Linked DNA regions of Homo sapiens. Changing the gene in region 1 together with any one later gene gives a genetic interaction. Each region holds a gene or a part of one and is shown on either strand. Other genes may lie near its edges.

What was found. A genetic interaction does not mean that the proteins touch.
Region 2: of RAD52 (region 1) and SEM1, changing one enhances a phenotype caused by changing the other (phenotypic enhancement), as found in Homo sapiens cells (one study listed by BioGRID).

The regions. Positions count from the first base shown.
Region 1 is NC_000012.12:938,774-944,073, reverse strand, and holds part of RAD52 (DNA repair protein RAD52 homolog), read left to right. Parts: intron 1-5,300. UniProt on the Homo sapiens protein: Involved in double-stranded break repair. Plays a central role in genetic recombination and DNA repair by promoting the annealing of complementary single-stranded DNA and by stimulation of the RAD51 recombinase.
Region 2 is NC_000007.14:96,691,789-96,697,088, reverse strand, and holds part of SEM1 (26S proteasome complex subunit SEM1), read left to right. Parts: intron 1-2,197; coding exon 2,198-2,291; intron 2,292-5,300. UniProt on the Homo sapiens protein: Component of the 26S proteasome, a multiprotein complex involved in the ATP-dependent degradation of ubiquitinated proteins.

The sequences.
Region 1 (5,300 bases):
CAGCTAATTTTTGTATTTTTTGTAGAGATGGAGTTTCATGATGTTGGCCAGGCTGGTCTTGAACTCCTCACCTCATGCAATCCGCCTGCCTCAGCCTCCCAAAGTGCTGGGATTACAGGTGTGAGCAACTGCACCCAGCGGGCCCCGCCCAGACCTATTTTCAAAATTAGAAAACCGTGAGGCTTCTGGAAGAAGATGAGAAGAATATCTTCATGACCTGAGTGTGTGCAAAGGTTTCTTAGGGCTCAGGATGCCAGAGTCACTTAAAAAAGCAAAAAAAACCCAAAAAAAAAACCACACACACAAAGATAAATATGATTGATTACATCAAAATGTAATCACAGACTACTCTAAGAAAATGAATGGGGAAACACAGGGACCTATTTGACAAAAGACTGATATTCAAGATAAATAAAGAACTAATAGGCCAGGCGCGGTGGCTCACGTCTGTAATCCTGGCACTTTGGGAGGCCGAGGCGGGGGGATCACTTGAGCTCAGGAGTTCGAGACCAGCCTGAGCAATATAGTGAAACCCCATCTCTACTAAAAATACAAGAATTAGAATTAGCTGGGCGTGATGGCACGTGCCTGTAGTCCCAGTTACTCGGGAGGCTGAGGCTGGAGAATTGCTTCAGTCAGGAAGATGGAGGTTGCAGTGAGCCGAGATTGTGCCACTGCACTCCAGCCTGGGCGACTGAACAAGACTTCGTCTCAAAAAACCAGTAGGGCTCCAGGCCTGGGATTGGGCCTCTGCTGCTCTACTCCCTGGACGTGTGGCTCCGTCCTTGGAGTCGGCCTTTGGTTTTCATGAAGAGTAGTGTGCATTAACAGCTGAGTGGTTTTATCAGCCTGTTTCCTGCCAACAGTGTATGAGAGTTCCAGTTGCTTTACATCCTTGCCAGCATTTGGTGTTGTCAGTCTTTTGAGTTATTCTGATGGGTGTGGTGTGTCATGGTCTTAATTTTAGTCCTCAGTCACTAATGGTGTTTAGCACTTTTTCCTGTGCCCATGACAATGTGCATCTTCCTTTGTGAAGTGCCTGCTCAAATCTTTTGCCCATTTTACATTGGGTTGTGTGTCTTTTTATTATTGAGTTGTAGCAGTTATTTATATAACCTTTATATCCTGGTTACCTGTCCTCTGTCTGGTTGCCTATTCATTTTCTTAGAGTTGTCTGATGAACAGAAGTTTTACATTTTGATGTAATCAGTTTTCTCTTATATTTTCTTTTATAGTTACTGCTTTCTGAGTCCTAGGAAATCTTGGCTACCTTCAGGCTGTGAAGATAATCTTTCATGTTTTCTTCTGTAAGTTTTTTTTTTTTTTGAGACAGAGTCTTGCTCTGTCGTCCAGGCTGGAGTGCGGTGATGGCGATCTCCGCTCACTGCAACCTCTGCCTCCCAGGTTCAAGCGATTCTCCTGCCCCAGCCTCCCGAGTAGCTGGGATTACAGACATGCGCCACCATGCCCAACTAATTTTTGTATTTTTATTAGAGACAGGGTTTCACCAGGTTGGCCAGGTTGGTCTTGAACTCTTGACCTTGTGATCCACCCGCCTCGGTCTCCCAACATGCTGGGATTATAGGCGTGAGCCACCGTGCCCGGCCTATAAATTTTATAGTTTTAGTTTTATGTTTAAGCCTATCACCCATTTCTAGTTTAGGTGAATGGTGTGAGATATAATTAAATATTAATTTCTTTTCCATATAGATATCCAGTCATTCCAGCACCATTTGTTGAAAATGCTATTGTATTGCGTTTTGGAAATTAAGATGACTGTACAAATGGTAATTGATGTCTGCACTCCCTTTTCTGTTCCATTGTTCAATCCTTGTGTTAGTACCACACTTTTAATTACTGTAGCTTTTTAGTAAGTCTTGAAGTCATGTAGTTGTAGGTCTTCCAATTTTGTTGTTTTCAAGCTTGATGTGAATATTCTAAATCCTCTGCATTTCCATATAAATATCAGAATTATCTTTACCAGTTTTACAGAAAAGTCTGGTAAAGTTGTGATTGGGATTGCATTGAATCTATGGATCAATTTGGAAAGAAATGACACCTAAACAGTATTGAGTCTTCAAATATATGAACTTGGTGCATTTTCCTTCTTATTTAAGCCTTTTAAAATTTCTTTTTAGGCCGGGTGCAGTGGCTTATGCCTGTAATCCCAGCACTTTGGGAGTCTGCAGCGGGCAGATCAGCTGAGGTCAGGAGTTCGAGACCAGCCTGGCCAACATGGTGAAACCCCGTCTCTACTAAAAATACAAAAATTAGCCAGGTGTGGTGGCAGGTGCCTGTAGTCTCAGCTACTTGGGAGGCTGAGGCAGGAGAACTGCTTGAACTTGCTCAGGAGGTGGAGGTTGCAGTGAGCTGAGATAGTGCCATTGCACTCCAGCCTGGGCAACAAGAGCAAAACTCTGTCTCAAAAAATAATAATAATAAAAATAAAAATTTTGGGCCAGGTGTGGCGGCTCACACCTGTAATCCCAGCAATTTGGGAGGCTGAGCCGGGTGGATCACCTGAGGTCAGGAGTTTGAGACCAGCCTGACCAACATGGAGAAACCCTGTCTCTACGAAAAATACAAAATTTGCCAGGCATGGTGGCGCATGCCTGTAATCCCAGCTACTCTGGAGGCTGAGGCAGGAGAATCACTTGAACCTGGGAGGCAGAGGTTGCAGTGAGCCGAGATGGTGCCATTGCACTCCAGCCTGGGCAACAAGAGTGAAACTCTGTCTCAAAAAAAAAAAATTCTTTTAGTTCTGTTTTATGGTTTTCAGTTCAGAAGTCTTATACATATTTTGTTAAATTGATTTCTAGATATGTTTCTTACCTTTATTGTAAAATGGAGCCATCATTTGCATCATTCATTACTCTGTATGTAATGTGTTATCATTCTCTACCTGCTTTCAAGATTTTCTCTTTATTTTTGTTTTTTAGCAGTTTGTCTGTGGTGTATCTAGGTGTCATTTTATTTGTATTTATCCGGAGATTTATTCTTGAGATTTGCAGAGCTTCTTAAATCTGTAAATTTATGTCTGTCGGCCAATTTGGGAAATTTGGAGCTATTAGTTTTAAAAATATTTCTTCTGTTCCATTCTCTTTCACTTCTTCTGTATGTGAGTTCAATTTCACTTCAATTGTATGTGAGTTAGACATTTTGATATTAGCCCACAGGATCCTGAGGTTCTTTCATTCTTTTCAATCTTTTTTTTTTCTCGAAGTTTGCATTTCGTGAGCAGGAGTGACAGTCATTCAGGATGATTTTTGAGATTCCTAGTTCAAGAGTAGTTCCTATTCTTTTCTAGGTGTAGTCAAGTATGGCTTCTAATTCTACTAGAAGGCTTTTTTGTCGGGGAGGTGGTTCTATGTCCTTTGGCTCTTACATTTTCTTTGTGTCTTTCACAGCACAGTTTTCAGAGGGTACCCTTTCTCTTTGGTTTTGTTTTGTTTTGTTTTGTTTTAGACGGAGTCTTGCTCTGTCTCCAGGCTGGAGTGCAGTGGCGCAATCTTGGCTCACTGCAACCTCTGCTCACTGCTACCTCTGCCTCCCGGGTTCAAGCAATTCTCCTGCCTCAGCTTCCTGAGTAGCTGGGACTACAGGCACGCGCCACCACACCCAACTAATTTTTGTATTTTTAGTAGAGACTGGGTTTCATCATGTTGGCAAGGCTGTTCTCCATCTCTTGACCTCGTGATCCGCCCGCCTTGGCCTCCCAAAGTGCTAGGATTACAGGCGTGAGCCACCGCGCCCGGCCAACAGAGGGTACCCTTTCATTCTTTTTCTCCTTCTTCCCAGAAGGCTTGCGTTTTCAAGACTACCTCATCAAGTTCTGCATGTGTTTAAAAGTGTCTCTACCCGACCTTCCCTTCCTCCCTCCCGATTTAACGGAATTCTTTGTTGGTGTTTTCATACTTACCGTGAGTTTTCTTTTTCAGGGTGATATTTTAGTTCCATCTTAGGCTCTCCATTGTCCTCTTCTCTCTTCTTTTTTTTTTTGAGACAGAGTCTCATTCTGTCACCCAGGCTGGAGTGCAGTGGTGTGATCTCTGCTCACTGCAACCTCTGCCTCCCAGGTTCAAGTGATTCTCCTGCCTCAGCCTCCCGAATAGCTGGGATTACAGGCGCACACAACCACGCCCACCTAATTTTTGTATTTTCAGTAGAGACGGGGTTTCACCATCTTGGCCAGGCTGGTCTCAAACTCCTGACCTCGTGATCCGCCTGCCTCAGCTTCCCAGAGTGCTGGGATTACAGGCATGAGCCACCGCGCCCGGTGCGCCCAGCCCTCTTCTCTCTTCTTTGCATCTCTCTTCCTATCTGGATCCCTCTTTGCTGTCCTTAAAGAGCTGAGATGAGAGATTGAGAAACATCTCTACAAGAAATTGACGTTTTTCTACTTATGGGTAATTAGAAGCTTGTAGTATTTTCAGTCTTCTAAGTATGTTGAAGATATGAGACGTTGGTGATTTTCTTTGTTTCTCCGGTTGGTTGGTCTGTGTAGTTTTTGGACATGTGTTTGGATATTTGGATTTATATAGCTGCCATAATCTTGGCTATGCAGGTAGTCTTTCCTGACACTTCATCCTGAAAGATTTGAAGCCTTTGGACAAATTTTACAGTGGGCTGGGTGCAGTGGCTCACGTCTGTAATCCCAGTGCTTTGGGAGGCTGGGCAGGAAGATTGCTTGAGCCCAGGAGTTTGAGACCAGCCTGGACAACATAGTGAGACCCGTGTCTCTACAAAAAATAAAAAATATGCCGTGTGTGGCGTTATACAACTGTAGTCCCAGCTACTTAGGAGGCTGAGGTGGGAAGATCACGAGCCAAGGAGTTTGAGGGTACGGTGAGCCATGATCGCCTCACTGCACTGGGTGGCACAGCGAGACTGTCTCAAAAAAAAAATTTACAATTAATGTCTGCATATCCTTCACCTAGGTTCATAAATTTGTACTTTTGCTTTATCTACTTGCCTTTTTCTCTCTCTCTACACACACACACACACACACACACACACACACAATTAGTTGAATGAATTGAGAGTAAGTTGCAGAAAACATGACACTTTACTCCAATATTGCATCATACAAAATCATACATCTAGTGATAGGCCATTGTCCTACAGAATCACGATATAATTATCACACTAACCAGCTGTGGTGGTGCACACCTGTAGTCTAAGCTACTCGGGAGGCTGAGGCAGAAGGATCACCTGAGCCCAGGAGGTTGTGGCTGCAGTCTCATATTCATCCCATCATCAGATTTCTCCCATTGTCCTAATAATATTCTTTATAGCTTTTC
Region 2 (5,300 bases), on another chromosome or scaffold:
CATTTAGTGTTTAAGGTAAAGTGTATGCTTTATAAGGCCATCTACATATTGAAGGATGGCATTAGACATGAGGTATATCAGATATCATGGGTATCATTGTTTGGTTATATTTTGTCCTTTTCAAAACTATTTCTGGAGTTAACCCTTTAAAACTGAGTGATTAAAATTGCTTGGTTGTCAGTGTAGTGTTAGAGTTGAAAATTAAAACACAATTCAGAGATCCAAGAAGATGTCAGCTAAACCCAGAGATTACAATAGTTACAGCTTTTTCATGTTATACATTGAGTAGAGTTTGTATGTATTGTAACTTACATATATTGTAACATGTATGTATAGTATAGAGAATTTGTAAGTGTTGGACATACTATTTTGGGGCATTATACCCTATCACATAAGCTTTTTATGTAATATAGTTAAGTACATAATCCAGGTTAATACACTGTTTAAAATATCCATCCAAAATAGATTCTGGTTTGTCAGTGTTAGCACTATTTTTCTTAACAGTGCTCATATTAATTTTAACTGCTTAATAAGTTGTAATAGAAAGGTTATTTCTCAGATTCCTCATCTATGATAATTGGAAGGGTGGTATGCTATTACGTAGACATTAGTGCTTCTTACTGCTTAAGATAATGGTATTAAGGCTACAAAGTTTATCTAGATTTATCAGATAATTAACGAAGAATTTGGCCAGCTCTTTCGTCTTTGTTTACTCAGTAGTGTCATAACTATGAAGTACTGTATAGTAATACGAAAGAACTATAGAGGTATTGTTATGAATCTTTTTTATATGTTCTACCTAAAATGTTGCTCACAGTATTCTTTTTCCCCCTCTTCATGAGCCAGTTCCTTTTTCCTGGGACTTTATCTCTACTTTTTCCTTTCCTTTCCCAGCCATTAAAATAGGGTGAGATGGTTATTAGACGAGGGAGAGATGCTTTATCTTTGTTGTAAATGATCATCAGAGTTTAACTTTATAAACTAAAAAAATTGTACCATTCTTAAATATTTTTCCCCTCTCTAAGTTAAAAGAAGTAAAGTCAACTTGAAGACATCACTTAATAACTATTGAAATAACATTTTGAATCAAATCATAATTAGATGAAAAATTTTGTTTCTTAAAAGATAGTTGCTTTAAAAGATAAGGCTCTACAGTATTTTTCAAAGACTTACAAGGTTAGCAGAAAAGTGTAAAATATTATTTTATATTTCTGGCTTGAATCTTTTGACACATGATTATTTCCTTTTTAGGGACCAATGCAGATGGAAGCGACCTACTTAACAGTTTAGGAAGCTGGTTATTTGGAAGTGGTTCAAGCTGAGTAGAATCTGCTTGTTGTCTTAGAACCTTGAAACAGTTCTGTTGTGATTTTGAGTTATGTCACCCCCTTTACTCAAGAACATAGTATCTAGTCTTTATTTAAATTATTTTTTTGTAACATAAAACTCCATTAGACATCTTTATAAAGACTCCTTAAAATAACTATCAAATAGATAATTTCTATTTCCAGGCTCAACCCACATAGCATATTTAAAGCTTGAGATTTGAGGTTAGAGAATAGTGGTAATACGTACGTACTTTCTCACCATTCTAAACAAAAGCTGAAATCTCAATCTAAACCTCCCCTCTACCACTACCAAAGGGAGGAAGAAAATCTAGAAAACTAAAAACTACAATATTCTTCTTTATGCATATTTATGTTTATTCTTCCTTTAAAAATATAAATTTTGTATCAGTTGTATTAGGCAGATACTAGTGGTGGCTTACAGTTTGGTCTACTTTTAAATATTTGTATATAAGTTATCCTTACGTTTTGCAGTTTTGAATTTCACACTGGTATCTTCCTGCCATTCAACTTGCTTTAGGGTTGTTGGTGTTGTGTTTTGAAAGATTGTGAAGTCGACCTTCTAAAAATGAGTTCAAAGAAAAATCAGTAAAGTAAATATCCTCCTGAAATTGTAAGTTTCTTGGCAAGTAGAATTTTTTGTATTAACTTCTGTTTTAGGTTATCTGCAAACTCAAGAATTGAGAGAACTAGACAGCATAAGCTCAGATTTAAGGAAGATACCATTTTTCATAGATATGGTTTTAGCTGTTTTTGAATTGTGAGTGTTCAGTAGCAAGCTTTTCAAAGTTTTTGTAATTGTGGAAATAATGTATGAGAAATATTTAGACAGCATCTGTTTCTATTTTTAGACTGGGCTGGCTTAGATGAAGATGAAGATGCACATGTCTGGGAGGATAATTGGGATGATGACAATGTAGAGGATGACTTCTCTAATCAGTTACGGTAAGTTTTAAGCCAGATTTTTATTGTAGTTCAGTATTAATTATAAGCATGGAATATGTAATTTACATAGATGATTAACCTCTTAAAAGCTACTTAATCTTTGAAATAGGTTTTTGAACTGTGTAAAGTAAGACATATTGTCTTCATCTCCTGTGATTCTAAACATGAACACTTTGTGTAATTGCATACAACTTTTATTCTTTCTGGTCTTTTTACAAAGGTAGTAAAATAGAAGCATATTTGCTATTTCTTATCCTTAGGAATTTAATTCTGTCAATGTTAATTTTCTACCAATATCAAATAACTCAGCAGAAATTAGAATCATAGAGTGCTGGGACCTAATAGATTGGTGATTCTCAAACTGGAATGGAGATTGGGGTTGTGAGAATGTACTGTGTCATATTCATGTATAAATCTACCTGATTTCATTTATTTATTGAGGTAAAATTCATGTAACATAAAATTAAGCATTTGAAAGTGTACAGTTCAGTGGCTTCTAGTACATCCTCAATATTGTGCAACCATCATCTCTATTTAGTTCCAGTATTTTCAGCATCCCAAAAGGAAACACAGTACTTGTTAAGCAGTCATTCCACGTTCTTTCTTGCCCTAATCCCTGGCCGCTGCTGATCTGCTTTCTATCTCTAAGTATTTGCCTGTTTTGGAAGCTTCATATAAATGAAATCATACAATATTGTGACCTTGCGTGCGTACCTTTTTTCACTTAGCATAATGTTTTCAAGGTTCATTCATGTTGTACCATGCATCAGTACTTCATTCCTTTTTATGGCTGAATAATATTCATATACATGTTCCATATTGTATATTCCAATTTATAATAATACTATATGGATATGCCACGTTTTATACATTCATCAGTTGATGGACATTCAGACTGTTTCCACCTTTTAGCTATTGTGGATAGTGCTGCTATGAACGTACGTGTACATATATTTGAGTACCTGTTTTCAATTCTTTTGAAAAGAAATTTTATATATATATATATACACACACACACACACACACACACACACACAAGTGGAATTGTTGGGTCATACGTTAATTCTATATTTAACTTTTTGAGGAGCTGCCAAGCTGTTTTCTACAGCAGTTGAACAATTTATGTTCTCACTAGCGTTCGTACTAGCAGGGTGTGAAGGTTTCAGTCTCTCCACATCCTTGCCAAAACTTATTTTTCTTTTTTGTTTTAAATTATAGCCGTATTTTAATCTATTTTTTCTTTTGTTATTTGTGCTTTTGGTGTCATATTTAAGAATTCATTGGCAAATTCAATGTAATGAAGATTTATCTTTGTTTTCTTCTAAGAGCTTTATAGTTTTTGCTCTTACATGTCAGTCTTTGCTTTGGGTTAATTTTTGTATATGTTATGAAATAGGGCTTCAGCTCATTCTTCTGCATATAGATGTCTAGTCTTTCCAGCACCATTTGTTGAAGAGACTTTTTTCCCTCCTAATTTTATTTTGATTCAGGCTGTATTTATTTGTCTTGGCTACAAGAATAAATAGACTGTCATATACTTTGCTCAAGTAAAGATATAGAAGATATATGTATTCCAGTCTTCTAATTTACTAGTCTAGTAAGCTTGTTCAAACAGAAAGTGAAATAGTTTATAATAAATTTTTAAACTTTGATTTCTAATAGTAATGCAGTAGCACCAGCTCCTACACTGCATTTTTTTTTATTGGCTCTATAAAGACTTAGAATTTTGCTGGAGACTGATAATAATTTTACCTATCTACTTTTTTTCTCATTTTTAGAAATAGTATAATTTACCTTTCACTGTTATACTGATACTTCTACAGTTTTTCATTTCCGTGTCTCAAATATTGCTGACTGATTTTTGACTACATCTTTTGGTTCTTCTAGTACCCTGAGATGTAATTATCCAGAGCCTTGAGATTTTAAACTGCCTTAATGCAGTTATCTTACCTGTCTTAGTTTTCAATTTTGTCTTAATTATGTTGTTTTTCCTTTTATAGTTTTATGGACAAGATAAAAATGATAGCTATTGAACAATAATCCTGCTTTTTCTCTAAAATCTGTTAATGTTACATCATCTGTTCCAAGCATTGTACCTGCTCTTTCTCATTCTTCATGATCAGTATATGGCTCTTAGAAGCCCCTTCTGTTCTTTTTACAGATTTCAGTTTATTTCGAGGATCAGATTAATTCTATGTGTACAAGCTCATGCCCTTTCTTTTTATATCTGTCTTTGTTTTATGTCCTTCAAAAAATGAGCCACATTAGAGAACACCCTACTAGCTTTTGAAAAATATACATTCCCTTTTGTTCCGCCTTGGCATCATTATGCTATTAGACTATTTATTTTCAGGTCTTCCAAATGCTGTTGATCTCTACTCTGTGTTTTTAATCACGTGTCAGAGTTTTCTTCCTGATATGTTTTTGACATTTTGAAATTGAGGCTAAACAAGTTTTCTTCCTTTGACATTCAAAATAGTCAAATTTCTTTGAAGTTTTGTTTCTTTTATGTCTTTCATTAGCACTTTTCTCTTAAAACTGATTGATACATTGTTGAATACTATAATTTTTACCAAGAAACTTTCAGTAGTAAATGTATTGATAATTAGATTTCACATCATTACATGTTGCCTTTTTATTGCTTTAGAAATAGAACATTATATATTTGTGGCTTACTGTTTTTATAATACACCCCCACAGTGCCATTATGTACTCTTGTGTTTCTGCCTTTAGGTTTGTGGATTTCTATAGGTATATAAATCTATTTTTGTTGTTTTTTCACTGTTGTTGTTTTTTGCCTGAGGTATATAAATCTTGATGCCTCCATTAGTGAATAAGATTTTTCTTTTTATTTCCCCATTTGAGTCATGAGTTCTTTCTTCACTAAGATTGTTGCCACATTGCCAGTGGTGTCAAATAGAACTTGCTGTAGTGATGGAAATGTTTGAGAAGCTGCTGTATAGAAGCAATCAGTTACATTTGGCTACTAAGCACATGAAATGTGGCTAG